Homo sapiens: one gene and its partners. The protein of the gene in region 3 interacts with the protein of the main gene of each other region in a pairwise test. Each region holds a gene or a part of one and is shown on either strand. Other genes may lie near its edges. The genes, in order: LHX6, LHX8, FIGLA and TCF23.

Region 1 (7,021 bases), on a different chromosome or scaffold from region 3:
GTCGCTCCTATTGAGCAGATAGTTCAGAAATGGAACTATATAAAGAGACATGGTTTCCAACTGGCAGCCTGGTGCGAAGACAGGGCTCTGCACTCCTAGTTCTGCCAACCAAAACCACTCCCACCATCACAAGAGCAGCCAATACTTATGCGGCACTTGCTGAATGTTGAGGATTTTCAGTTACCTCGTTTGATGCTCAGAACACTGCTTTGAGATACTGTTGTCCTCATTTTTACAGATGAGGGAATGAGTATGCAAGAAAGCTAAGAAACTCACCCACTGTCACACAGCTAGTAAATGGCAGGGCTGGGATGTGAAGCCTGGCAATCTGAAACCAAAGCCCACACTCGATCATTAAGGCATACCGGCTCCCACTAACTTACAGTGGGCCCTTGGTTTCCTCATCTATTCAAGGAGATGGTGGCCTCTGATGTTTAGAGACACAGTCAGTAGAATATATGGCATATGGTCAGTAAGCAGCAGTTCTCTGTCTGATTTCCCTTCTTTTTCCCTCTTACATGGAGCCAGAGAAGGGAGGAATTGTGTCTGTGTGCATCGCAGTCATTTACATTTTTTTGGTCATGCCCAGCTTAGAGGAAACAATTGATGGGAACAACTTCAAAGGGAAAGACAATCTGTGATAGGCACCTGCTCAGCAGCAGATTCACTGAACACTCATCCTCCAGAAATCCCCGGGGCTCCTCCCTCACTCCTCCAGGTTCCCGCTCACAAGTCACTTCACCATGACCCGCTTGCCCCTGCATCTCCGCCACAGTACTCCCTGCCACGGACATGCCTGCTCCCTCCCTGTTACTTTATCATCTCCACCATCTCCCATGCTGGAGTGCAAACCCCAGGAGCACAGAAGCTTTGGTCTACTGTGTTCACTGTCGTATCCCAGTGCAAAGAACACAGAAGGCACTCAAGATATAGCTACTGAATGCATGAATGGTGTCTCACAACCCTGTGAGGCTGGCATTATTGACATCCCAGGTTACAGATGAGGAAACCAGGGCTCAAGGAGGTTAGGTGACTTGCCTAAGGCCTCACAGCCCTGGACACTCCCATCACACTGGCCTTCTGCTCCCCAGAACACACCCATGCCACGATGCTTTCTGGGCCAGGGCCTGCGTGCATTCCGTTCCCCCACTCCAGGTACCTCACTAAATCCTATCCATCCTTTCAGTCTCTGCTTGCTGAAAGGCAGCCCAGCCCCTTCCCTTCCACCCCGCAGCATCTCCAGTCACTCCTACCCAGCACCTTTCCTACAGGAATCATCCCACTTAAAACGACACACTCATCTGCCTATTTTTCCATGCCCACCAGAACGCAGGCTCCACAGAGTAGGTACCTTGTCCAGCCTGTTCTCTCCCCAGTCTCCGGGCACTGGCACATTGTGGGTGCTTTGAAGGCATTTTTTGAATGGCTGCTGAATCGCTTGCCTCTATGAAGGATCCCGCTCCACTGAGGCAGAGCCGAAGATTTGACCCTTCTTCCCCCAACTCCTAGATCCAAATGACTTCGGGTCCCGCTTCTTCACCCACGAGGCTCCCCAAGGCCCTCCACCCCACGCCTCGGCCTCAGCCGCCCACGTGCGCTCCTCCGCGCCCCCTCCCCGCAGGCCCAGCGGCTCCCGGCGCTGCGGTTACTTACTCTCAATGTAGCCGTGCAGGGTGACCATGCGCGCCCGCTCGGGGCTGCTGAACGGGGTGTAGTGGATGTCGTCGGACAGGGCGGAGGGAAGGCGGGACGGGGGCGCCCCCGAGGGCGGCACTGGGTGTTGCGGCGTGTGCTTTTTATGACGCGCCCGGCAGTTTTGAAACCACACCTGGAACGACAGCCTCGGCAGCCTCAGCCTCGAGGAAAAGAGTCGGACGCGCCGCCGGGAGACCCCAGGCGGGACTGCCTCGTCGCCTCCTGGAGAAGGATGGCCACGTGCACGCACCACCCTCCGCGCCGAGCCCAGCTACGAGCTCCGGGGCGTGCCCGCGGTCCCCAGGCCCCGCCCACCCCCGTCCCACCTGGATGACTCTCCGGCTGAGGCCCGTCATGTCCGCCAGCTTCTGCAGCGTCTGAGCGTCGGGGTTGTTGTCCTGCGCGAACTGCGCCTGCATAACCTGCGGGGCGGGGAGGGCGGTGAGGCGCTCGCACGCAGAGACTCCGAGACCCCGGCCCAATCAGCGGCGCCAGTCCACAGGCCACGCCCCAGGCAGCTGCGGCCCCGCCCCGCCACCCGGGTCCGGCCCGAGGGGCGGAGCCAGGAGACATTGTCGGCCCCGCCCACTTTCGGCCCGGCCCCCGCCCCCGCCGCCCACTGCTTGCAGCGGTACCTGCAGCTGTTCCGCGGTGAAGGACGTCCGCGCGCGCTTGGCCGGCTTGGGTTGACTGTCCTGTTCCGAGGGCACTGCCCCCTCCAACGTGAGGCCGTTCCCTGGGGGCGATAGAAGCAGCTGACCACGCGTCCCCATCTCTTCTAGTGGCAGCCTGGAAAGGACGGGGGTGGGGGGAGCTTGTCCCTGGAAGGGTCAGGAGCGGGAGTTGGCTGGGAGCAGGGATCCCAGGGTCCTAGTCCCTGAGCTCAGTCTTTGGGGAAGGGGTTTCTGAGCGTCCGCTTAGTACTGGACACTTCTTACACGACTGGACCACGTCTTACAGCCCTAAGGAGAGGTGGCGTTACCTCATTATACATGGGAGGAAACTGAGGCTCAGAGAGAAGGAAAGCCCCTGCCCTGGCCCTTTCAACTAGAATCCGAAAGCTAGCTGACCCTAATGTCCCAAACTGGGCTCCCTGCTGGCGAAACTGGGGGACACCAAAGGCTAGAGGAGATAGGAAGCAAGCAAGTAACGGAACTATGCTCCTAATTTTATAAAAATAAGCGGAAGGAAAAAAGGTTGTAAGAATATACAACAAGGTGTTGGCAGTGGTTTACTTCCCAGGAATGTGATTATGGAAACTTTTTACTTTCAGTATTCCTGTAACTTTTGAGGTATTTAAAAACAATCATATGTTGCCTTACTTCTGTAAGGTTTAATTTTGTTAACCGGCGTATATGTTAGATATTCTCTTTCCACTCATATTACTTTTACAGTCATACTAAAACACTAACCATATTCCCATTTTATTTTTAATACTTCATTGTTCTGAATATCCTCAAAATCTCAGAAAATTTCCATAAGCACAAAGAAGAAAATAAAAATCACCAGTAATTCCAGCACTCAGAAATAACCATTGTTCACAATTTATTGTAACTTTTTAATTAGGAAAAAATTATGTTGAAGGAAAAAAGCAAACATTGTAACATACATGGAAAAAAATCTGAGAAGATACACATTAAAATATGAAGAAGGCAGCATTTGGAGCAATCGTTATTTTCTTCTTTTTGCTTACCGTCTTTTCTAATTTTTCTACAATGAACGTGTGTGTATCTGTGTGTGTGTTATGTTTAAAAAGTGAAACAGTAGCCAATACTGAGGGCTGATCAGTAAGAGAGATCGGAGGCCCCAGCTTTCAAGTTCCTCAGCATGTTAAGTCTGTGGACAGGTGTGGCTGTGAGAGCTAGGATGTAATTGGCAAGGTTGTAACTACAGGTGGTCCTGGTTGGACCATGTGTGGAAGGAGCCTGTGGTCGCTGATGGACCACAGTGTGGGAAAGCTCTGACTCCTGGGTTTCCATCCCAGCTCTACTGCTGACTTGCTGACCACTGCAGATAATTTCATTGCCCATCACTGCAGATAAGCAGGCAGCAAGTGAAACCCAAGTTCACTAGATGCCCCCTTAGACCCACTTAGTCCTGATCCTGGCAGGAGAAAATGATGGCCCTGGTATGCCCATGGCCAGGAACACTCTTGCGGTCCCTGACTAGTCTCCAGGCTGGGACCTAGAAGTTGAGGCAGGGTGGTTCATACTCCTCCCCAGAAAAACTGGGGGTTGGGCAGACACTCTGTGGTATTAATGTCCCCTAGGAAAGCAGGCAGGGCAAGGATTGGTGTGTTGGTTTTTTAGATGGGAAACTAAAACAGAGGCAGCTACATCCCAGAAGCCTCCTTGGCTTTATGAGATCTGATTAAGGTGCCCTAGAGCTTAGGGCCAAGGTGGTGTGGTATGGTATGATATGGTATGGTATGGTAGTTAAGAGGCTGGGCTTTGGAGCTAGGCAAATCTACTAGTATGTAATTTTTGGCAAATCCTGTTTCTTCTTCTGTAAAATGGGGCCGTGCCACCTACTTCCTAGGGCTGTTGTAAGGATTACATAAAATAATCCCTGTTACAGAGAAGTTAGCAGCTTTCACAGACCCTAACAGGGAAATTAGAGAAAGAGTCCCTGCCTCTGCCCACAGCCAAGCACTGCCCTTTCCCAGCTCCATCCCATCTGTGACCCTGTCCCCAGGATCCGTGGAAGACCTGGATCTTGTTCCTGGGCAATCTGGGGAATCACAATGTCAGAGCCAGAAGAGATTTAGGGATCATTCTAGTCCAGTATCTGTCTTGCACAGATGTAGGGACTGAGGCCCAGAGAGAAAAGGAAACCTCATATGTCAACACAGTATGGGAGAGCCTGGTCTCCAGACTCAGAAACCTGGTCCTTTCCCCTTATAGTTAGAGACCCTGGTCCAGGATGAAAACCCTTCCTCAAACCTCTGGCTTGGAGCTGCTAGGATAGGAAATGGGAGAATGGGAGCCAAGTCATCTCTCCAGGACTGGCCCAAGCCTGGTCCCAGGCAACCGGAGGGGATGAGCCCCCAGGCCAATGAGAGCTGTCCAAAGGTGGAGTAGGCTGCCCGATTATGAGAACCATCTCTAGGGTTCACTGAGTGCCTCCTGGCTTTACAACACATCAGCTAGCTCATCTATCTTTGGGAAGGTGTTCTGTTGTTAACGCCATTTTACTGATAAGGAAACATAGTTACAAAGGAGGGCAGTGACTTCTGACTCCTAAGCAAAAGATCGACCCGGAAGTGCAAGATCTGTTCGCCGCCCCACCCCTACGCTGCCTGCGGGACTATACCGGGAGGGCCCAATCGGTAGAGGAGTGTGGGTGGTTCCTGGGGTGCTGGGGTGGGGTGGGGTGGGAAAGGGCTGGGGGCAGAGGTGCCAGGCGGAGCAGGTTGGGTACCGTTCTCGGCGGCCCTCTTGAGGTTCTCAATCATGGTGTCGTAGTGGATGCGGCAGAGCACCTTCTCCTCGACCAGGCCGAACTCCTCACCAGTGGACAGCTGGCGCTTGCACGAGAAGCAGGCGAAGCAGGCCAGGTGGTAGGCGTTGCCGCGAGCTCTCCGCACCCAGTCGCTGGCGTAGATCTGTCGGCCGCACCGGGCACACTTGGTCCCGAATCGGCTGCAGGTCGAGAGGACAGGCACGGGGTGTCGAGACTCAGACAGGCCAACCTTCCTCCTTCCACCACCCAATGGCCCGCCAGCCCCCAGGCTCCTGGCCTCTAAGTCTTCAACTCAGGCATTAGCCTTAGCTTGGACGCAACAACACTCTACACCTAGTCCCACCTAGGAGATGAACTGGTGGGTGATTTTTATTTTCTTCTTGGTGTTTTTCTGAATTTTCCAAATTTTCTACGATGGTCACTTATATTTGCATATTAATTTGTTTGTTAAAAATACATCACAAGTTAGAAAAAACACAATAATAGTAATAATAAGCAAGTTGTTGAGCACTTACCACTTGCCCAGCAAGATTCTAATTGTTTTACATTGATTATCCCAATTAATCCTCATTTTGCAGGTGAGGAAAATGGGGACTAGAGAGGTAAAGTAACTTGCAGGAGGTCACACCGCTTGCAATGATAGGAACCCTAGCGATCCTGCTCCAGAGATGAATATAAGCTATAGCGCCAGCTGTACAGAAGTGCAGTTTCTTAGATGAACAGACAGATAAGCACTTACTGGCTTTGTGACACTAGGCAAACTGTTTAACTCTGAGTTCTCGTTTTCCTTGTCCTGCACTGAACTAGATGACAACAGCAATGACTACTACTGTTTGTTTAGTGCTTTGCAGTTGGCTAAGTACCCAGCAAGTCCCTCTGGAGCCTGTGACATTCTATTAATAATACCAAATGTTAAAAAGACAAAAATAAAAATAAAAAGCCCAGATCGAATGTCTTCTTGCCCCTCAAGCCTTCCTTGATTCTACGACTTCTCCTTCTCCCTTCTGGTTTTGTAGTCTGGCAATTTGGGTGCAGCTGCCTCCAACACCAGACTGGAAGCCCCTCCAGGAGGCAGCGGAGTCTGGTTTACTCCATCCCAGAAGTCAGCCCAGGGCCTGATCCCGGGCACCAGGGAAAGTGTGTTCTTTAAAGTGGATGACTCACCTGTGACTCTGTCCCAACCCTAGCAGCCTGTTTCCTCTGGTACACCCTCTATTTCAGAGAATGGTGCCACCACTTACCCAGCCCCTGAAGCTTGAAAATCATAATCATGCACTCCTCTCTCTCCTCAACCCCTCATCCAGCCAATCATCGATGCTGTTGGTTCTGTTTCCCAAGTATCTCTGGGATCCATCTCCTTCTCACCATCTCCACTGTTGCCCTCCTAGGCCAGGCTCCCATCATGCAACCCTCACTGTCAACCTCCTCCCCGGTCTCCCTGTTTCCAGTCTCGCCCCTGCCAACCCATCCTCCACAGAGCAGTCAAAGCAAAGTTTCCAGCATGCACATGAAATCCTGTTTCTGCCTTGCTTACAATCCTATGGTGGCTCCACTCTACCCTCAGGATCTGGTCCAAAACCCTTGGGGTTTGCAAAACCCAAGCGACCACATCCTCTTCAGGCCCATCTCCTCCCTAACCTTCAAGATATGCCGCCCCACCATCCAGGCATGTGTCCCAGTCAGCCACAATGGAAGGTCACTCCCAGGTCTTTATGGCCTCCTCTGAAGCACTTTCCCACCCCCAGGCCTTTGCACTGACCTACCCTCCCCCAGAGTCCCACGGCACCCTGCACCGCTCTCTCAGCGCTGACCACACTGGTTTGTAAATGTTTCGTTTCTGGCTCTTCTCTTCCACCCCTTCCAC
Region 2 (7,021 bases), on a different chromosome or scaffold from region 3:
ATCTGAAAAACATACTACCTCAAAGGCTACCAGGGTTGTGAAAGATTTAGATCATGCCATAATATTAAAGGCAGCAGGGATATTTATCTGGAGATAAGGCCAGGAGATGGTAAGAGAAAGAGTAATATCCAGAGTAGGTGTCTTTAAATATTTGTGAAAGGCTTCCCTGCAACGGAATGTAGAAAAAGGCACTGGTGTTCACTCATAATGAATTTTCTCATTATTGAAAGGCTACACAAATGGCACGGACTACCAAGGAAGGTAGTGAGTTTCCTCTGCCTGGGAGAACAGTTTTCTTTGGCAGGTAGTTCCGACTCCACGGGCTAAAAGTTCCTTCTAATTTAAGACTCTGTATATTCATAACAATGATAGCTTCAGGTAAGTCAGATGCATGACTTATATCATTTTGAAGTTGGAAGCAAAGAAGAAGGAGAGTTTTCTTAGAGCTTTTCATATTTGAAGGACTAAGGAACACAGGCAGACATCTGTCATGTAATTTCCAGGCATTTAGGTTACTAGTACTATGAGCAAGTTAACTTTGTCCTAAGCCCTACCATTTGGAGAATATATTTTGAATGTTGGCTTTCAATATGTTAAGGTTGAACATTAAATATTTTTGATATGATTCCAAAGGAAAGAGTACTAGCATGCTTATGTGTTTATTATTTGTATCTATACATAGGCTCACTATATGTTGTAGCCCTTCAGAGTATTTTATAAGAATTACTGTGATCTCAAATAGTAATCATACTTTCCCTCAGCCTCCTTCCTAGCATTGGGCATAATATTTTAGAAAGGTAAGAAAAAAGAGTTTTTATTACTAGACTTCTTCTAATATGCAAACTAGGTCACCCAAAGATTAGGAGGAAACTGGTGTGATACGTGGAGAGTTTCACGTTTCCTAGTTACAAATATGCTTAGTAAGACATTTGTAATAAAGCAGACTGTCCTTATACTGAAGTCAAAGAATAAAGATGAGTGATTTTTTTCCCCACACACTGCATCCAGATACAATCACTGTTCACATACTCTTTCAGATAAGTGAATTATGATTTTTATGTTGTGCAGAGACAGAGTAAACTATTGCTATTTCTTCCAATCAGTGTACTAGGAATACCCTTCCATATTAACATCATATTTATTGCCACATATATTGAGCATAGCACAATTTATTTAGCTTCCAATTTTTCACTATTATAAAATGCTGCCATGAGCAACATTGTATATCTACCTTGCGTGCTTGTTCAATAGTTTCCTCAGGATAAATTTCTGGAAGGGAGATTGTTGAGTCCAAAGATAAAACATGCATAGGGCCTTTATACAAACATGAAATCTCTTTGCCTTTGAGAAAGTTCATACAACTTTATTCTGCCAGGAGCTACGTACAAGAGTTCCTTTTCCCCAACTCAGAAGAATCCTGAATACTGTTACTCTTTTACATCCTTTACAATTTAATAGTTAGAAAAGAAAATCTCATTGATTTTATTTCTGTTTCTTATATTATCAATGAGCTTGAACAAATTAGTTTATTTTTTCATTTTTAAGACCGTATGTTTTTAGCTCACTCTTCTGTTGGGTTATTTTCTCTATATCTTACTGATATTTATTAATCCTATCTGTCATGTTAACCTTTCACGGTTCATCAATTTCCTTTTTATTTTTTCCACACAGAACATTTATATTTCTATGTGTTTAAATCTCCCAGTCTTTTGATAGTTTTGGCCTTTTTTTTTGTTTTGTTTTTCTTTTTTTGAGATGGAGTCTCACTCTGTCACCCAGGCTGGAGTGCAGTGGCACGATCTCAGCTCACTTCAACCTCCGCCTTCCGGACTCAAGCGATTCTCCTGCATCAGCCTTCTGAGTAGCTGGGACTACAGGTGCGTGATACCACACGCAGCTAATTTTTGTATTTTTTGGTAGAGACGGGGTTTCACCATATTGGCCAGGCTGGTCTCGACTCCTGACCTCGTGATCCACCCACCTCGGCCTCCCAAAGTGCTGGGATTACAGGAGTGAGCCATCACGCCTGGCCTTTTTGTTTTGTTTTGTTTTGTTTTTTGAGATGGAGTCTTGCTCTGTTGCCCAGGCTAGAGTGCAATGGTGCAGTCTCAGCTCACTGCAACCTCTGCCTCCTGGGCTCGAGTGATTCTCCTCCTCAGCCTCTCGAGCAGCTGGGACTACAGGCACCTGCCATCATGACTGGCTAATTTTTGTATTTTTAGTAGAGATGGGGTTTCACCATGTTGGCCAGGCTGGTCTTGAACTCCTGAACTTGTGATCTGCCACCTCGGCCTCCCAAAGTGCTGGGACTACAGGTGTGAGCCACCACGCCGGGTCTAGTTTTGGCCTTTCTTATGCTTCCCTATCTAGAGAGTATTTCAATGTTGCCTTTTGTTTTCTTAAACTTTTATTGTTTCAATTATTTACGCCTAAACTTTAATTTATCTGGCTTGGTTCATGGGAGATAGGGTTTTATCTATTTTTTTCTCTCTTTCAAATGATAAACTATCAGTTTTCCCTAAATCAGTGAAACATGCTTTCCCAATAAAATAAAATCCCATCTTTGTCATATACAAAATTATTATATTTGGCTTTTTGTCTGGGCTTTCTAAAGGTTTCATTCTCTGCATTAGTATTTTGCTTTTCCATTATATCTACATGGCCTGATTTTAGCTTAGTTTATGATTTAGAAGTCAAAAAATTTAAAGTAGTTACTCAGAAAATGTTAACTCTTGTTGGAGGTTTGCAAACAAGAAGGAGGAAATTTTGTCAGTGAGGAGAGTCAAAAGGACTTATACTTGATTCTGAAGCTGGGTAGCATTCATGCCAGAAGGAATTTCCTGATGTCTGGAATCTTAAACTATATTTTGCTCTACCAGTTAGTTACATGATACTTTGTTTTTGCAAACCTCCTTCTGCTTGATTACCTGTGGATGATCTTTCCAAGAAGCTGCTTAACAAGATAGTTATTCTGCTGTTTATATTATACCTTCTTCATGTTTATTTACAAAGTTTGAGTGTTTTTTTTTTTCAATCAAAAGATGGTGTTTCTTTTGTTTTACAACTGCATAGGTTCCATTCAATATATAACTTATTGGAGACAAAAAGATACTTTGAAGAAACTCTGGGAATCATAGTGCAACATGTTTTAGGTTATATGTAGTCCTCTGGCGTATGTGTCTTCTGGGTCCCATAAGGGAAAAAGGCCGGTGGCAGTGGTTCCCCCTTACACATTGGAGAATGTTTGAGTAATGTCATCCTATTTGGGTGAGACTAGTGTTAGTAGTGACATCTATTGTTCCAGAGCCTGTGGGCAGAACTGTGGAGTTTGGGGTGTGGTCTATAGGTATCTCTGAGTCTCACTAACACTCCAGAGAACAGGGATGTGGAGGAGGCTGTGACTTCCCACTTGTCTTACTGGTGGATACCTAAGTCTTGTCCCAGAAACATTCCTTAGCTGCTACTTTTCAGCCTCCTGCTCAAGGCTATATACCCCACTAGATTATTAATTTTTTATTCTTTTAGTTTTAATCACTCTTGAGAGTATACTTTGCCAACCTTCTATTTTTGAATGCCAGGGGCAGGGTGTAGTTCTGAAGTAAGGCCAGCTTTTTCTTATAAATTCTTTGCAGCTTCCTTTTATTTCACATTAATCAGCCCTGATTGCCTTGTGCCATCAAGGCCCTACCACCAGCCTTGAACAGACTTATGCCCCTGATGTTTTCCTGGCCTCATATCCCTGATCCCAAAATGTTCTCATGCTAAGTTTTTATCCCTTCGCCTCTCTTTCCTCTCATGACAGAATTGTTTGGAGTGATGGAAAAAAAGTGATACAGTATTTTAATGAAGAAACACTCTCTTTTTTTTTTTTTTTTTTTTTTGAGACGGAGTCTCGCTCTGTCGCCCAGCCTGGAGTGCAGTGGCATGATCTTGGCTCACTGCAAGCTCCACCTCCCAGGTTCACTCCATTCTCCTGCCTCAGCCTCCCAAGTAGCTGGGACTACAGGCACCCGCCACCATGCCTGGCTAATTTTTTGTATTTTTAGTAGAGATGGAGTTTCACTGTTTTAGCCAGGATGGTCTCGATCTCCTGACCTTGTGATTCGCCCGCCTTGGCCTCCCAAAGTGCTGGGATTACAGGAGTGAGCCACTGCGCCCGGCCCATGAAGAAACACTCTCTATGGTCAAGTTTTATCACCTGTCAGGGAATTCAAACACAGGCATATTAGCTACTGGAAGCATTCTGGGCAGCCTAGACTTACTTGCCCTGACCTGGATGTAAAGCTCCACTTGCCCTGAATTTGCTTCTTTTATTTCTGCAGTAGAGTGGACAGCAGGGTGGTTAGCACTTTACATTTTGTGAACTCTCATCAGTGGATGTGTTTGTATTTAATTCTACTTAAATATTATGAGTTTTTTTCTTATTAAAGACCTGACCTTAACATGCTTCTTAGGGAATAGCCTATGTATTCACCAAGAGAAATTGAACTCAGCAGGTTAAAATCTGACTGGAATAACTGAATCAAGAGGTTTGTAGAAAGCTTTAAGTTCTCAGTAGGGATTTTAGTCATTTGAACAAGGATTTGAAATAAGTCCAGCAGGTGCCTAAGAATACATTTAGTAGTCTTTTTTTTTTTTTTTTTAAGTTCTGATTAAAAGAGCTTTTTCTGCTTTTCCTTTTGTCCTAAATACCAGTAGTAAAACCAAGGAGATTTCTCTGGAATTCTTGAGGGCCCTTCCCCACCTTTTCTGGGGAAGATGCTGTTTTAGTATAGAATTGGCTTTTATTTTTATTTTTAAAAAATCTAATGGAGTTTTTGGGGTACTTTTGTTTGGGCTTTGTTGTTGTTGTTGTTGTTGTTGTTTTGTTTTGTTTTGTTTTGTTTTTGAGACAGAGTCTTGCTATGTCGCCCAGGCTGGAGTGCAGTGGTGCAATCTGAGCTCACTGCAACCTCTGCCTCCTGGGCTCAAGTGATTCTCCTGCCTCAGCCATCCGAGTAGCTAGGATTATAGGTACCAACCACCACGGCCAGCTAGTTTTTGTATTTTTAGTAGAGACGGGGTTTTACCATGTTGGCCAGGCTGGTATTGAACCCCTCACCTCAGGTGATCTGCCTGCCTCAGCCTCCCAAAGTGCTGGAATTACAGACATGAGCCACAGCACCCAGTCAAATCCAATAGAGTTTAATAATTGCATTCAAGGGGTAACCTTAACGTTTGACCAACTCAAATTCAACAAACCAAAATCCCTTAAGCAATTGGTCCCCTTTCCTACTTAAATAGAATTGGCTTTTAGGTAAATCACCAGAGAGCTATCAACTGAGCAAGAAAAATGACCACTGTTATTTGGACTAAAATGTTTCTTTTCTGTCTATAGAACTTTTATAAAAGCTGAGTTACATTTATGCGGTGCTTGTGTGGTAGTGTGATTGAGGTTGCATTCATTTTTTAACTGAGTTGATAATGTGCTCAGAAGCTGGTGTGTAACCTACCTACTTCTGTTGCTTTTCTCCCTGCTCAGGTGTGGTTTCAGAATTGTAGAGCACGCCACAAGAAACACGTCAGTCCTAATCACTCATCCTCCACCCCAGTCACAGCAGTCCCACCCTCCAGGCTGTCTCCACCCATGTTAGAAGAAATGGCTTATTCTGCCTACGTGCCCCAAGATGGAACGATGTTAACTGCGCTGCATAGTTATATGGATGGTAGGTATCCCAACATTTAACAGCTGTCTCCCAGGCAATCAGCAACTGGTAACTTCTAATATTAGATTATTGATACAATTCACATTTTGAAATATTACCTCAGTAGTAGCTGAAAAATATTGTGGGGGGTGCAGTAGAGAGCAAAATTATCCAAACATTTTTATTTCTGTGATTACATTTTAAGGAAGAAGTTTAATACTCACTTTGCAGCTAAGATGCAAATATTAATAATGACTCAATGCTTGATCTTTACTTAGAAATTTTTTGTTTGTTTTTACCGGTAAATATTTAAATACTTTATTTCCTGTGATCAGAGCAAGTGTTCACTCAGATCTTTAGATGGGAGTTTAATAAGTTTTGTTAAAGAGTTGTTTTTTATAGAAGAAAATCATACATTTAGAAGAGTGCATACGTAATAACTATTCAGCTTGATGAATTAATAAAATGAATGTATCCATATAGATATTGCCCAAAGTAGCAGATATAATTAGCATTTCAGAAGCCTCTCTTATGTCTCCTTCCAATTATTATCCTTTTCTCCCAAAGTAACATGGCACTGATTTCTAAAACCACCCTTTAGTTTTGCCCTTTTTGAACCACACAGAATGTATTTTGTGTCTCACTTCTTTCAATTACATTGTGAGATTCACCTATATTATTGTGAGAATCTGTTATTTGTTTTCATTGTTATATAGAAATCCACTGTAGGAATATACCACAATTTATCCATTTCCTGGTTAATAGATATTTGTGTTTTTTCCAGTTTGTGCTTTTATGAATATGCTGCTATGGACTTTATTGTACATGCTTTTTGTGCACATTAATTCACATTTCTACTAGATATGTACCTGGGAGTGGGACATAAGGTCATGGGCTACACATATGCTCAACTTCAGTCATTCTGACAGATAGTTTTTCACAGTGGTTGAACCAGTTTACACCTTGACCAGCAGCAAGGTTCAAGGTGCTTCACATCCTCACCAACACTTGGTATGGTGTAACTTCCTGATATTAGCAAATTTGATGATTGTGCAGTGCAATCTTATTTTAATTTGCCTTTCCCTGATGACTGAGCATTTTTTCATCAGGTATTTGTATATTCTCTTTTGTGAAGAGCTGTACAAGTCTTTTTGTCTTTTGGCCTACTGGCTTGTCTTTATTATTTATTTAAATGGATTTGCTTAATTTCTTCATGTAATCTGCATATAAAGCTTTTTGATAATTGTATGTGCTTAGAATATTTTCTCCTACTTAGTTGCTTGGCTTTTTCTACTCTCTTAATGGAATGTTTCATTGAGCACAAGTTCCTAATTTTA
Region 3 (7,797 bases):
TTTACCTTTGAGTCTTTGGCTCCTTCCAAAAGATCACTGAGAACCTGTATATATTCAGTCGCACCTTTAAGGATATCAACTTTGCTGGGCTTCCTGCTTTGGGGAAGAAATGGCACAAGTGCCTTCAATCTGGCAAAACCACGGTTGAGATTTTTTATCTAGAAAACAAAAAGGCACAGTAACACACAGAGAAGCCAATTTGTATAGACATCTCCCCAAGCTACAGAAGGGGGTTGTTTCCACTGCCTCCTTGTCTGAGTGGCAAATCTAAACAGGCATATGCCCCAAAGAGTCAGTGCTCCACCAGCAGTGCAGTTCATAGTAAAGGAAGAGGGAATGGCATAAACTTGGTACTATGGGCAGATGGGCTGCAAGGTGTGTTCATGTTCATGCTGAGCTCACTCCTCTTCTTTTGAGAGCATACCCGCTGTATCATAATGCGGAGGCAGTAGAGGAGTGGCTAAAATATGAATTAACTACACCCAGGTTTAAAATCCAGGTCTATCATTTACAAGAGTGTGTGGAATACTTCACATCACTAAGCCTGTTTGTTCATCTGCAAAATGGAAAATATCTTAAAGCTTTTTGGGGGGTGTGATTAAGTGATATAATGTACAAATAAGATACCTCACCCAAACCTGGCACATAGAAAGTCCTCAAGAAGTGGTATTGCTGGTGATGAATCAAATGTACAAATACTTGTCAACTCAAGCACTGAGCCATCAGCTCTTCAAACTCTTTCCCCACTGAGTTAATGATATAGAGGCAAGGGTGAGAATCCAGAGAGTTGGTGAGACTTCAAAGGCTCCTCATATTTTATTTTTCTCTCTTCTCCAGAGTCTAATCCCTGTCTCTGAAGGCCTATAATTCTGATGTTCATCCCCCTGGGAGATACAGGCCTTGGGAGAACTGGCTCCCACTATGCCACAAAGCCAATATATATTGAGTATATCCTACCCTGGAGCAAACCAGACAAGGGACATAGTTGGCCAATTCACAGGAGAATACAACAACCACTCAGTGTATAAAAAGAATTTAATAATCAAAGAACTACAAACTAAAACAGAAATTAGATACCATTTTTTATGTATCAAGGTGGTAACATTTTTGTTTTATCATACCCAGGATAAGGGATAGCTTGAAAAAGAGAACAGTCCTAGACCTGTAAGAAGGGATAAAAATTAGTAAACCTATCTAGAAAGCAATTGGGTAACTTGTATCAAAAGCCATTCCATTGTATATGCCTTAAGTCTCAGTAATTTCACTTGTAGCATTTTATTCTAAGGAAATTATCAGACACGCACATAGAGTTACACCGATAGGTACCGGTAAAAAGCTACAAACAGCAAACATGCCTAACAATAAGAGACTGAATACATTATGGTCCATTTTTGGACAGACTATGCAGTCAAAAACTATTCTTTGAAAGAATACTTAAGAATATAAGAAAATGCTTTTGATAATGTTAAGTGGAAAAAATTACACAAATATGTACTGAATATTTTGTAAAAATTATATATATATATATATGAATACACAAAACTAGAAAAAGACTGGGTGGATATACACAAAAATGTTCACAGTAGTTATATCTGTGTTGTGTCTCTTAACTTCTTCACTCATTTCTGTCTTTTCCAAGTGTGTTAACCTTATCATTATAAAGAATAATAAAGCTTATTCGTGTTTTAGTGGATAAAACCAGGACTGATTCTCTGGAGAAGACAATTCCTTCCTGGTGGGAAGGACCACTTAAACTATTAGATCATAATCTCTTTGTAGGGCCACCGAATCAGATCACAGGGTTCTGTCCATCAAGAGTCTAGTACTGGTAAAAGAGGAGACTTAAAGAAGTCTCCTACTCTCCTGTCGTCCTTTCTGCGCTTGCCCTCTCCCTGCAAAGCTCCTACTTGATTCACTGGGACATTTCTGAAAGGCCTAGGAACAGCCCCGGGCGGTACTTCTCTCCCCAGTCCCAGTCCTGAACGTGCGCTCTGCTCCCTCTTCTACCCCTCACCCTTCTCTCTCCTGGATTCGCCTCTGCTGCAACCAAACCCGTAGACTGCAAACGCTAGGAAGGAGACCATGTCTCCCAAGTTTGGGGCTGAGTTTCGTTAGATAGTAAAATCTACCAGCAGGTGCCGCTCCAACCACGGCCCACAGGACCCTTCCCGTTTGCGAGTTGCTGCGGCTCGACTGGGAAACACTCACTTTATCTTGACAGAGTTGAGTGGGAGTCTTGGGTGCACACTGGGACGTCGTGTTTCGTTACTTTAAAAAAGAAAAGTCACTTCCGTCAGGCCCCCCTTTCTCCTCACCCTCGTGTGTGCTTCGAGGCCGAGATGCAGAGAGCAAGAAAAAGGAGCGAAGGGGATCCCTGCGCGTCCCAAGCACCCACCAGCGCCTACGGTGTGAGATGAAGGCGCACCCCCTGGGCGCGAAGCTTTTAAAGCACCTGCCCAGGGAGACATTTTTGAAGTTGTCAGGGCCCCTCCTCTGTCCCCTCCCAGACCCGGGTCCTGCACAAATCCTGGAGGGTTAGCGGGCGAGGCGGCCACCGCAGCGGCCGCCAACGAGCAGCTGCACGGAGGTGCAGAAGAAGGAGGCCACTGCCATTCTCCTGACAAGCTGGGGGCGTGGGAGGCCTCGGGAGCTCGAAGTCGCCTCGAGCGGGGGTGGGCGGTGAGCGGACCCCCGGGTGTTGACCAGGTGTTTGGTGGTAGAGCAGGGAAGGGGGGAACGGACGTCGACCCTAGGGATCCCTCACCCGCTCACGCTCCTTGGCGTTGGCCACACGCCGCCGCTCCAGCACCAACTGGAGGTTTTCAGTGGACGAGTAGCCGCCCGAGGGCAGCCGCTTGAGCCGGCAGACAGCGGCCAGCTGGGGCAGCGGCCCGAACTGCTCCCGCAACACGTCCTCCAGCACCTCGGCTTGCGGGGTGCCCAGGAGCGCGGGCGGCGCGGCGCGGGGATCTAGGACGCCGGGCGCGGGGTCCATGGCAGGGCCGAGGCCGCTGAGGCCGGGCTTTCACCTGCGCACCCGGGGCCGCACGAGGCCCGGGCGGGGGCGGGGCGGGGGCGGGAGCTGGACCACCTGCAACCATTCCCCGGCTGCGTATTCCAATCCCGGCCTCCTCTCTGGAGGCTGCGTCCAGGCATCGCGTTGAATAAGCCGCACAGGTGTGACTCGGGAGCGCTGGAGCGCAGCCCCGGCTGCACACCTGGAACCGCCGGGAGCGTGGTAGTGGTGTTTTTCTCAATCCACATGCCACGGTTCCAGTCCCCCAAATTCCCATTTAATCAATCTGTCTTGGGGCCTGAGCTTCTGGCTATGTGTATACAGAAAAATGTGATGGATATCCACAAAACTTTTTTAAGAATTCGTTTTGAAATAAAAGTTGCGGGGAAAATGGCAAGAAGAGTTTCTAAGAGCTCCTGTACCCCCTTCGCCACGCTCTCTACTTGCTAAGTTTTCACGTTTGCTCCGTTGCCCTCTTTCTCGCTGTGAATATTCTCATTTTCATTATTCTTTTTCCATTCTATTTGAACTATTTTCTTTTTTCGCGAGTGGGGGGATACATCGCTTTATTCATTTTCCCCCTTTTCCACACAGACCTTTATTGTCAACACAGCCAAACACAGTTGTTACTTCAGAAAATGTGCTGGAAAATAGCGATCCCAAACTTGTTTAATAGTAGAGTACAATTTAGTACTCTAGAAATAATTAACTACATCTTCTGTTTTGAGTAGATTACTCATGAGAGTTTGTTTCTCTGGAGGTTATCAATATAACTGGAACATTCTGATCTTGCACCTGAAAATCAGACATGTTTCTGGAAGCCCTCTGTAAAATCATTCCTTCCAAGCATAGAAATACATTTTTTTTTCTTTGGTCTGAGAAAATATTTTTTCTACGCTTTTGTTTCAGGTTCAGGGGTATATGTGCAGGTTTGTTAAGTGGGTAAATTGTGTGTTGCTGAGGTTTGGTGTACGAATGATCCCGTGGCGTAAGTAGTGAGCCTAGTACCCAATAGGTATCCTTCCAACCCACGCCCCCCTCTTACTTCCCCCTCAAGCAGACCCCAGTGTCTATTGTTTCCATCTTTGTGTCCCTGTGTATTCAATGTTTAGCTCACACTTATAAAGTGAGAACAGGCAATGTTTGGTTTTCTGTTTCTGTGTTAGTTCCCTTACAATAATGACGTCTAGCTGCATCCATTGATCTATTCTTTTTTTAAAGTTTTTAAGTTGCAGACATGCTGTCATATCACCTCTAAATACTCCAGTGGGTATTCCCCCTAAACAAGGCCTCTCTTCCACATAACCGCAACACAACCACTCAAACTAGGAAGTAAGCATTGGTACTGTGCTACCATACAATCCATGGACCCCATCAAAGTACCACCAGCTGTCTCAACAATGTCTTTTTCTCTTCTGGTTGGAATCCAATCCAGGAGTACAAGTTTTATTCTGTTGTCATATTTCTACTCTCCTTCATTCTGGACCATTTCCTCCATCTTGTCCTGTCTTCATGCCCTTGACAGTTTAAAAGAGTAGGGGCCTTTCATTCTGTAGTATGTCCCTCGACCTGGGGTTGTCCACTATTTGCTCATGTCCAGACCCCAGCCATGCCTTCATGGAGGGGCTCCATATAAATGATGCTGGGCTCTTCTCAGTGCATCACATCAGGAAGTACATGAGGTTGATCTGCCCCACCACTGGTGATGTTAACCTTAATCGCCTGGTCAAGGTGGTGGTGTCAGGTTTTTTCACCATAAATTGATAAATATTTTGTGGGCCAGGCACGGTGGCTCATGCCTGTAATCCCAGCACTTTGGGAGGCTGAGGCGGGCGGATCACGAGGTCAGGAGATTGAGACCATCCTGGCTAACATGGTGAAACCCTGTCTCTATTAAAAAATATTAAAAAATTAGACGGGCGCGGTGGCGGGTGCCTGTAGTCCCAGCTACTCAGGAGGCTGAGGCAGGAGAATGGTGTGAACCCGGAAGGCGGAGCTTGCAGTGAGCCTAGATCTGTGCCACTGCACTCCAGCCTGGGCAACAGAGCAAGACTCCGTCTCAAAAAATAAAAATAAAAAAAAATTTTGTGAGGAGATACTCCTTCTCATCCATTGTTGACTCCTACCTGAATCAACCAGCACTACAATTAGAGGCAAATGATTGGCATTCTACTGTGAAAAAGAGCTTTCCCTTCTTCCCATTTATTTATTCATTTTGTATTTATGTCAGCATGGGCTCATGAATTTCTATTTTAGTCACAGGATATAATTTATTTACATCATTATGTTAATGCTCAAATTGTCTCAGATTTGGCTTATGGGAGGCCCTCTAAGCTGGCTCCTCTGTCCTTTTCATATGACTCCCTCATTCTTTGTGCACTTTCTCACTTGTCCCAGGAAGGCTCTTCTTGAATTTTCCCAGCCCCAGCCCAGGGATCAGTCTATTCTTCTTTTAGTGGAAGGTAGGATTTAGAAACCAAGATCTGTGTGCTTGCTTGCTCATTCCTTTTGGGATGTCATTGCTTCTAAGCCCTTTTTGCAGATATGACACATATGTAGGTAAGTACACATGCATGTATTATATTATAATAATGCATATAATATCCTCTAATATAATATAATGCATATAATAACTATATCTGTGTATCTAAGTACATATATATTTAAAACCATGAGTTCACACTAATACCTCCAACTCCAACCCAACACCTCAGGTTCCCTCTAGTTTCTCTGCTTTCCTTTTTTGTAACTCCTCACCCCATATCTGCTTTTGTAACTCCCTTCTCCAACAATGAGAAGCTTGACTCACATTATCCTCAGTGTAATTACTTATTTGCTCAATCCCTGTACCTAACCAATTTTCTAACCACATCAGCCACCTCTTAGGCCCCACCCTTCTTCAGCTCCCACTCTGACATTGCCTCCCAGGAAAGGTCAAAGGAAAGAAGGGGACACACCAAATGTTTGACTGAGGTTCCTTGAGCATGGCCTGGGAATGGGGAAGTGTGACTGCACATCACATCCTCTATATAGCTTATTTCACAATAAACACGGGCCACTTCTGTAATTTAAAATATATTTTTAAGTAGGAAAATACTTTGTTTGCGCTAAGTTCATTTGGTGTTGTCTGCTGGCAGGCAGATGGAAAGCAACAAGGGCCAAAAGTGTGGGAAAAAGCTTAAAATGGAGATAGCTTACCCATTTACTTAACTTTCCTTGAAAGCATCATAAAGGACATCATTGATATTATTCTATTTTATTGCCAAACCTTGCAGTGAACAAGGTGGTGTACATTAGGAACCCATTGTGAGCACACCAGATTTGATTCCTTCATACCTGTGTTCTTCCATAAACTCCAACTCTTAACTTTCTGGCCTCTGGTCTGTTAGATTCATACGTTATGTCATTGTTCTCAGGGAAAGCAATCATGTGAACTGATTTAAGCTAAAGTGTTACACCTGATGGTGACTTAGGGCTGATACCTTGCCATACACCCAATAATACAATGGCCTAATGAACAAAAAGTTTCACTATCCTCTAACAGTGTGAAAGGTTTAGGTCAGCTCTGCTCCTCAAGGTCACTTGGGGACTTAGGTTCCTTCCAAATTATTGTTCTTCCATCCCTTAGGGTCAACTCCCCTACAGCATTGTCATCATTGGCATGGCTGAGGCTCGGTAGCCACCGTATCTGGGTTCCAGGAGAAGGGCACGGAAGAGATCTTAAGGCCTGACCAGAGGTGGCACATAGGATTCAACTCACATGCCATTGGCAGGAATTCACACATGGCTACACACGGATGCAAGAAAGGGTGGGGGAATGTAGTCTGACTGGGGAGCCATGTGCCTGGCTACAATTCTGTTCAATGGGGAGAACGCATTTGGTTGACAACAGGAGTCTCTGTCCTAGTGCCCCTCTTCTGTGCTCCAGTAGTGCCCATAAGCCTCTGCGAGATCATTTATTTCTCTTATTTTGGCTCCTTGAAGGAGGATCACTGGCCACAGCATCTCCAGCACCTACGGAGTGCTGGCTTGGCACACAGTAGACATGCAATAAACATTTGTTGAATGAGTGAGAAGGCAAATGAATGAATGATGCTTGCAATGAAGTAAAAAAGCTACTTTGACATGGGTAAAATAAGAACCTGCTTATTCAGGTAAAATCTTTCACGTTTTGCCATAGCTGCTTGACCCTATAATATATATTTGTGAATAAATAAATAGATGAATGAAAAAGCTTACCTAAGTTTACATAGAAAGTAGGAAGATCTCTCTGCCATGGAAAATTGAAGGATAAGTGTCCTCTTAGATGCTGGTGATATACTATGGTTGATATACACAGTACTGGCTCAGTTGCATTCATCCTATACTGCTCTATGGGTCTAGTAGGGAGTTTCCTGTTCCAGGCTGCCTGAAGTATGTGAACATCTTTAGGTCCCAGAATGCATTGCTCTCCTTGTGTTTGCTATTCCTGCTTATTGCTCTTCCTTTGTGGGACCAGACCTCTTGGGATGCAACTGATAACATCCTCTCTTTACTGCTTTTTTGTTTCCTGAGTCCTAAATACCTTGTAGTCCAGTACAATGCCAGCCGAATGGAGTCCACCCTTGGAGTAAGGATGGGGACACACAGCTATCTCAAAACACAATGCCTTGAAGAAAGGGGATCCCTGTCTAGTTTGCTGATTGATACAGACACTAGGTCTCTGAGTCAATGGTGCAAAAAGCAGGATAAGGCTAAAGGACCTTTTACCAATTTCTTATTGTTGCTCTGTTTCAAAAAGC
Region 4 (7,934 bases), about 44 Mb from region 3:
ATTTATACATTTTAGCTACATTTGCATTGAAGAAAAAAACCAAGTTTTAAGACATTTCAGAACTATGACATTTAGGGGAAAGAGGTGGTGAAAAGTATCATAAAAATAAAGTTGAGAGGTGAGAGGATCACTTGAGCTTAGAGTTTGAGACAAGCCTGTGGAACAAAGTGAGACCCCGTCTCTACAAAAAAAAAAAGAAAAAAAAAAGCCAGGTGTGGTGGCATAAGGCTGTAGTCCCAGCTACTGGGGAAGCTGAGGTGGGAGGATTCCTTGAGCCCAGGAGTTTGAGGGTACAGTAAGCTATGATTGCGCTACTGCACTCCAGCATGGGCGACAGTGAGACCCTGTCTCAACAATAAGTAAATAAATAAATAGTTGGGTGTGGTGGCTCACACCTGTAATCCCAGCACTTTGGGAGGCCGTAGTGGGTGGATCATCTGAGGTCGGGAGTTTGAGACCAACCTGGCCAAAGTGGTGAAACCCTATCTCTACTAAAAATAGAAAAATTAGCCGGGCATGGTGGTGCACGCCTATAATCCCACCTACTCGGGAGGCTGAGGGAGGAGAATCACTTGAACCGGGAGGTGGAGGTTGCAGTGAGCCAAGATTGCGCCACTGCACTCCAGCCTGGGCGACAGAGTGAAACTCTGTCTCAAAAAAATAATAGTACATATATAAATAAATAATAAAATAAAAAAGTTGATACCACTGCAATGTTATCCTCAGAGGGCAAAGATGACCCTTCCTTTTTAACACAGTGCACTCTTCAACCAGCTCCTTATGGCGCTGTCCCTGGAGACTGTTTAGTGGCTATGAGCTTAGGGTCTGAAGTCAGACACCCCTGAGTTCAAACCGCTTTCAGCCTCATAACCTCCCTAAGCTTCAGTTTCCTCATCTGTAAAGTAATCCTCATTTGGTTTTTGCATGGATTAAAAGACAAAAATACACTAACGTACTTAACCCAGCTCCTGGCCTATCTTTAGCACTCAACTGTTAGCTGTTATTGCAAAGATGATTAATGTTCATTAGACTTTCCATTTTGTACTCTGGAAGAGAAGTAAGGCTCATGTTAGCTTCTATTTTACGTGTAATAAAACTGAGGTTGAGAAAAGCTAGATTGCAGTCTGGCAAGTGGTGCGCGCCTTCCCTGTACTGCTGCCTGCTAACTCCCCCAGCTTGGTTGCTTCTAGAATGACGGTCCCTCAGACCGTTGTTCTCCTGGAGGACAGACCTCTCTTGCAACAGAAGCCTAGAAAGCACCAAGGCAGGCACAATGGGCTGAAGCTGCATGGGGATCTAGGACTCTCCTTGGTATAATTTCCTTTCCCAGGCCCCAGACTTGGAACCTGCTACATTTTTCCCTGTGACTCTAAGAACCCCAGAGTCTTTCCCTCCTCTTCAAGGAGGTGCATTCCCATGAAGCCATTTCCAGCCACACTCCCATGAGAAACCCAGGGTCAGCGCAGCCCCAAGGGTCAGCCTTGGCTCCTCTCCCTCTGAGACAGCAGGAGAAATTGGCTCCGACGTCAGTTCTGCACAGGGCAGGGGGCCCAAGTCCAATGTCCCCCCTCATTCCAATCCCTTTCTCCAAGGCCCTGGGCATTAAGATCCGCCTCTCAAGTCCCAGGGCTTGTGACTTACCTTGAGAGGGTGCAAGTAGCGGAGTCCACGCAGGAAGGGCGGCCAGGCAGGGCCAGGCAACTCGTGGCCGAGTGTGCGGGTGAGGTGGGCTATGTAGCTGGCGGCGAGCACCAGCACGTCCAACTTGGAGAGCTTGGTGTCGGGCGGCACGGCAGGCAGAGCAGCCTGCAAGGCCAAGAAGGCCTGGCGCAGCGTCCTGACCCGGCTCCGCTCCCGCGCGGCATTCTCAGGACTGGCCTCGCTCTGCACAGAGGGCCCCAGTGAGTGTGTGTGACCTGGACTCCCAACTGCCCTGACTTCTGAGAGCGTTTGAGCACAAGGTCTCCCACCAGAGTAGAAGGGTGTCTAGCAGTAGGCACCAGAGGGCCTCTGCCCACCTACGTCATCTGCAGCCCTGCCGCGTTTCACAGCTGAGGAAGTTGGGGGAAGGCCTGGCCAGGGGTCAGATGGCTGCAGGATGGCAGAGCTTGGCTCAGAACCCAGAGTCCTGTGTTCTCTCTACTACTCCACTCATGCCTCCTCAGAGCCTTTGTCCTGTCCCATGCCCAATCTGAATCCTGCTTATCAGGGTGTGCTGGGGCCAGGGGGAGTTCAGAGCTACACCCTGTTTGGGAGGGCGGACCCTTGACCTAGCCAGGTCCTGAGACGACGAGGCTGCTGTGGGAAAGAGGAAAGACACAGAACCAGGGGTCAAAGCACACAGGCTGAAGTCCCAGTCCTACCACTGGCTGCTGCTCAGTGACCTTGGGAAATTCACATCCCTCTTCCCGGCCTCAGTTTCCTCAAGAGAAGTGAGTTAGTGCAGCTCTCTGAGCTGCACTCTGGTTAAGACCAGCTCTGATCTATCCCAACTACCCAAAGCATGATGCCTTGGAGTCTAAGGGGCCAGTGTCCCCTCTCTTGGGCAGGAATGGTAATACTGAGTGAGGCTGTACCATCAGAGGTGACATCTCCCCACCTTCCAACCCCTTCCTCCCCTGGACCCCTCTGCAGGTGCAGGATTTCCTTACCCTGCCAAGAGCCAGGCCCCCAGCCCTGGTCCCTCGAGGGCCAGGGGTAGCTCTGCTCCATCTCTGGTTGCTCCAGCTTCTTTCTTCCCACGGGTCCTGCCTTGTCCTGCTGAGGCGGCTCCTCTTCCTGTCAGCGCCTGGCAGCAACCGTGCTTTGGCCTGAGTCTGGCTATGCCCCACCCCTGGCATGGCTGGTGGCCCTCTGGCCTTCCTCTGTGACATGCCACCCCACTGGGGCTGCAGCCCACAGAGCAGAAACACAGTGCCTGAGGAGGCCTTGGACTCAAGCTAGCTGGCTGTGGCTGGTCATCCAGCCAGCAATATCTACATCCGAGGAAGCTGGCGCCAACTCAGTCCTGTTTGCTCCCTGCTCTGGGAAAACCGCCCACCAGGCACAGCCCCCGCGAAAAGCCTCCGCCTGCCTCCTAACCCAGCTGAGAGGTGGGGGTGCTGGATGCTGGGAGTGGCCAAGCCTTGGGAGGAGGCCCATGCTGAAGAAGGCAGGAGGATAGTGGGGAAGGGAGCTCCTTTCCGGCCATGCCTAACCTCAACAGTGGTCCTATGGTGGACCTGTGACTTCCGCTTTGGAGCTCACGTCCATGGAGAGGACTTGAACCTCCTTCGTCTGTGCCAGAAGGCTGCCTGCATACATCCCTGAAAGGCCTTTCCTCCCCTTGCCAATGAACGTGACCTTCCAGCCACAGAGCGCGATTTGCCATGCCCCAAATATGCCTCCGATTTCCACTCTGTGTTTAAATTTACCTTTCCACGCCCCAGAATACCTTCCTCCAGCTCTGCCAGGAGGTACTGCCCATCCTTCAGGTCTCCGCCTTTCATTCGTGAAGACTTCAAATCCCGCAGGCCCAGAGCCCATGGGTCCCTGTTTGATTGGTACAATCACAGCCTGGCTACTTTCCCAGAAGTTCGATATTCATAGATTACTGTGTGCCAGGCACTGTGCTAAGCATCTTATTTATTTCTCAGAGCAACCTTTTAAGAAAAAAAGAGACTCAGTTTAGATGTGTGGGAACTGGTATACTGGGAGGTGAAATAACTTGCCCAATGTCAAACATCCGTTAAGTGGTGGGGTGGGATGAAAATCCAAGCCGTCAGTTGGACTTTGAAGGCTACCCCTCACCTGATGCTAGCCTGCCTCCCATGGGTTACTCACGCGTCTGTCCCCATGCTAGACATGAGGTCTCTGAAGGCAAGGACCATGGTGTTCCTGAGTTGCATCACATCCTCCAAGAGCTAGTTAGGAGAAGGCGGGCTGAAGGAATCGCGAATCTGCCACAGCAGCCCCTGCTGTCTTCCAGGGACCTCTGCCTGTAGCAGAATCCAGCCTGATGTCCCTTGTCCCCCATTCTCGAACCTCAGGGGAGATCAAATAAGTAAGGAGAAAGTAAAAAGGTGGATGTACAGTGAGAAAGATATGCAGCCCACCACAGAGAAAGGGAAAAAGAGGCCGGGCGCGGTGGCTCACGCCTGTAATCCCAGCACTTTGGGAGGCAGAGGCAGGTAGATCATGAGGTCAAGAGACGGAGACCATCCTGGCCAACTTGGTGAAACCCCGTCTCTACTAAAAATACAAAAATTTAGCTGGGTGTGGTGCCACGTGCCTGTAGTCCCAGCTACGCGGGAGGCTGAGGCAGGAGAATTGCTTGAACCCGGGAGGCAGAGGTTGCAGTGAGCCGAGATTGCCTGGGCTCCAGCCTGGGCGACAGAGCGAGACTCCATCTCAAAAAAAAAAAAAAAAAAAAAAAAAAAAGGAAAGGAAAGGAAGGAAGGAAGGGCCGGGTGCAGTGGCTCACACCTGTAATCCCAGCACTTTGGGAGGCTGAGATGGGCAGATCACGAGGTCAGGAGACTGAGACCATCCTGGCTAAGATGGGTGAAACCCCATCTCTACTAAAAATACAAAAAAATTAGCCGGGCGTGGTGGTGGGTGCCTGTGGTCCCAGCTACTCAGGGGGCTGAGGCAGGACAATGGCGTGAACCTGGGAGGTGGAGCTTGTAGTGAGCCAAGATCGTGCCACTGCACTCCAGCCTGGGCGACAGAGCAAGACACGGTCTTGAAAAAAGAAGGAAGGAAGGAAGGAAGGAAGGAAGCAAAGAAAGAAAGAAAGAAAGGTAGGTAGGTTAGTAGAAACAACCTGCATGTCCATCAGTAGGGAAGTCGTTAAATAAATTTTGGCATCTCCATACTATGAAATAATGTACAGTAATAAAAATAATGACAGCCCTTTGTTAAATGACATGAAAAACTCTTCAAAACACACAGTTGTGAAAAAAGCTAGTTGTAGATCAATATATATAGTAAGACCCCAGCCACGTAAAAAAATACACCAAAAAATAAAAAATAGAAATGTAAAGTTTTATGTGCTTATGTGAACATATAGAAAGGAGATGGAAAAGATGTGCATCAGGCCGGGCGCGGTGGCTCACGCCTGTAATCCCAGCTCTTTGGGAGGCCGAGGTGGGCGGATCACCTGAGGTCAGGAGTTCGAAACTAGCCTGGCCAACATGGCGAAACCCTGTCTCAACTAAAAATACAAAAATTAGCCAGGTGTGGTGGCAGGTGCCTATAATCCCAGTTACATGGGAGGCTGAGGCAGAAGAATTGCTTGAACCCGGGGGCGGAGGTTGCAATGAGCTGAGATCACGCCACTTCACTCCAGACTGGGCAGAAGAGCGAAACTCCATCTTAAAAAACAAACAACAACAAAAAAAACCCCAAAAATTATCCAGGTATGGTGATGCATGCCTATAGTCCCAGATACTCGGGAGGTTGAGGCAGGAGTCGCTTGAACCCAGGAGGTAGAGGTTGCAGTAGGCCGAGATCGTGCCACTGCACTCCTGCCTGGGCGACAAAGTGAGACTGTCTCAAAAAAAAATAAAAAATAAAAACAGTGCAGTTACCCCCTTGCTCCCTCTTGGATCGCTCACTCTGGGGGAAGCCAGCTGCTATCTTGAGGATATCCAAGCAGCCCTGTGGAGAGGCCCATGTTGTGAGGAACTGAGGCCTCTCACTGACAGCCACCACGACTTGCCAACCGTGGGAGTGAGCCACCTCAGAAATGGATCCTCCAGTTCCAGTTGGACCTCCAGATGACTGCAGCCCTGGCTGTCGGTTTGAGTGCAACCCATGAGAGACCCTGAGCCAAGATCACCCAGCTAAATTGCTCTTGCCCGTAGAATTCCTGACTTATAGAAGCCATAGAAGATAATAAATGTTTATTGCTGCTTAAGTTTGGGGGTAATTTGGAAGCAGCTATAGATAACTAATGTAGTATGTGTTACTGAAGCCTGTGCATTGTTGTATGAATAAATTTTAAATTTACACAAATGATAATTGTATTAGCCAGGTGCAGTGGTGCATGCCTGTAATCCTAGCTTCTCAGGAGGCTGTTGGGGCAGAGGGGAAGATCACTTGAGCCCAGGAGTTCCAGGTTACAGTGAGCTATGATTGCGCCACTGCACTCCACCCTGGGCAACAGAGATAGAATCTGACTCAAGCAATCCTCAAAATTACAAGTTTCAAGCAATTAGGCAGAAAATCAATAAGGATATAGACGACTTGGGAAACACTATAAACCTACTAAACCTAACAGACATCAAATAACACTCAACAACATAATGCTACAGATTCTTCTAAATTGCACATGGAAGATTCTCCAGAATGGATCATATGTTAGAGTCTCCAGAATGGATCATAAAACAAGCCTCAACATGCGCAGTGGCTCACGCCTGTAATCCCAGCACTTTGGGAGGCCGAGGCATGCGGATCACCTGAGGTTGGGAGTTCAAGACCAGCCTGACCAACATGTAGAAACCCCATCTCTAGTAAAAATACAAAATTAGCCGGGCGTGGTGGCACATGCCTTTAATCCCAGCTACTTGGGAGGCTGAGGCAGGAGAATCGCTTGTACCTGGGAGGTGGAGGTTGCAGTGAGCCGAGATCGCTCCATTGCACTCCAGCCTGGGCAATAAGAGCGAAACTCCACCTCAAAATAAAATAAAATAAATAAAACAAGCCTCAGTAGATTTAAAAGGACTGAAGGCATACAAATAATATTCTCTAACCACAATATAATTAAATTAGAAATCAATAACAGAGCTAACTTTTGAAAATTCACAAACATAGAGAAATTAAACAACACATCCTTAAATAATCAGTAAGTTAAAGAAGATATTGCAAGGAAAATTAGAAAATACTTTGAGACGAATGTAAACAAAAACACAACATACCAAAATTATGAGATCCAGCTAAAGCAGTGAAAAAGAAGGAAAATTTATAGCTGTAAATGTTTATATTTAAAAAAAAAATGGCCAGGCGCAGTGGCTCACGCCTATAATCCCAGAGCTTTGGGAGGCTGAGGCGGGCAGATCACCTGAGGTCAGGAGTTTGAGACCAGCCTGCCCAACATGGCAAAACCCCATCTCTACTAAAAATACAAAAAAATTAGCCGGGCATGGTGGCAGGCGCCTGTAATCTCAGCTACTCGGGAGGCTGAGGCAGGAGAATCGCTTGAACCCGGGAGGCGGAGGTTGCAGTGAGTGGAAATAGCACTGTTGCACTCCAGCCTGGACAACAAGAGCAAATCTCTGTCTCAGAAAAAAAAAAAAAAAAAAAAGTTAAAAAAATTTGAAAACGAGAAAAAATTTCAAATCAGTAACTAACCTCTTTAGGAAACTAGAAACAGAAGAGCAAACTAAACTCAAAGTAAGCAAAAGGAAGGAAATAATGATGATTAGAGCAGAAATAAATGAAATAGAAAATAGAAAAACAGGCCGGGCACAGTGGCTCAAGCCTGTAATCCCAGCACTTTGGGAGGCCGAGGCGGGTGGATCACCTGAGGTCAGGAGTTCGAGACCAGCCTGGTCAACATGGTGAACCCCCGTCTCTACTAATAATACAAAAATTAGCCAGGCGTGGTGGCAGGCGCCTGTAATCCCAGCTACTCAGGAGGCTGAAGCAGGAGAATTGCTTGAACCTGGAAGGCGGAGGTTGCAGTGAGCTGAGATCGCACAATTGCACTCCAGCCTGGGGGACAAGAGCGAGACTTCATCTCAAAAAAAAGAAAGAAAGAAAGAAAGAAAATAGAAAAACAATAGAGAAAATTAGCAAAACCACAAATTGGTTCTTTGGAAAGATCAACAGAATTGATAAAACTTTAGCTAGATTGACAAGGAATAAAGGAGAGGGGACTTAAATTATTAAAATAAGAAATGAAAGAGGGGAAATCACTACTGACCATACATAAATGAAAAGGATTTCAAGCA

Evidence for each region.
Region 1: the proteins of FIGLA (region 3) and LHX6 interact in binary tests that used the Homo sapiens proteins (3 or more experiments, as listed by UniProt).
Region 2: the proteins of FIGLA (region 3) and LHX8 interact in binary tests that used the Homo sapiens proteins (3 or more experiments, as listed by UniProt).
Region 4: the proteins of FIGLA (region 3) and TCF23 interact in binary tests that used the Homo sapiens proteins (3 or more experiments, as listed by UniProt).

Annotation. Positions count from the first base shown.
Region 1 is NC_000009.12:122,211,953-122,218,973, forward strand, and holds part of LHX6 (LIM/homeobox protein Lhx6), read right to left. Parts: intron 5,337-7,021; coding exon 5,116-5,336; intron 2,485-5,115; coding exon of another isoform or gene 2,474-2,484; exon of another isoform or gene 2,432-2,473; coding exon 2,331-2,431; intron 2,118-2,330; coding exon 2,022-2,117; intron 1,829-2,021; coding exon 1,654-1,828; intron 1,445-1,653; coding exon of another isoform or gene 1,284-1,444; exon of another isoform or gene 1-1,283. UniProt on the Homo sapiens protein: Probable transcription factor required for the expression of a subset of genes involved in interneurons migration and development.
Region 2 is NC_000001.11:75,151,372-75,158,392, forward strand, and holds part of LHX8 (LIM/homeobox protein Lhx8), read left to right. Parts: intron 1-5,521; coding exon 5,522-5,705; intron 5,706-7,021. UniProt on the Homo sapiens protein: Transcription factor involved in differentiation of certain neurons and mesenchymal cells.
Region 3 is NC_000002.12:70,787,644-70,795,440, forward strand, and holds the start of FIGLA (factor in the germline alpha), read right to left. Parts: upstream 3,001-7,797; 5' UTR 2,996-3,000; coding exon 2,765-2,995; intron 159-2,764; coding exon 6-158; intron 1-5. UniProt on the Homo sapiens protein: Germline specific transcription factor implicated in postnatal oocyte-specific gene expression.
Region 4 is NC_000002.12:27,144,073-27,152,006, reverse strand, and holds the start of TCF23 (transcription factor 23), read right to left. Parts: upstream 3,004-7,934; 5' UTR 2,874-3,003; coding exon 2,652-2,873; intron 1,885-2,651; coding exon 1,642-1,884; intron 1-1,641. UniProt on the Homo sapiens protein: Inhibits E-box-mediated binding and transactivation of bHLH factors. Inhibitory effect is similar to that of ID proteins. Inhibits the formation of TCF3 and MYOD1 homodimers and heterodimers. Lacks DNA binding activity.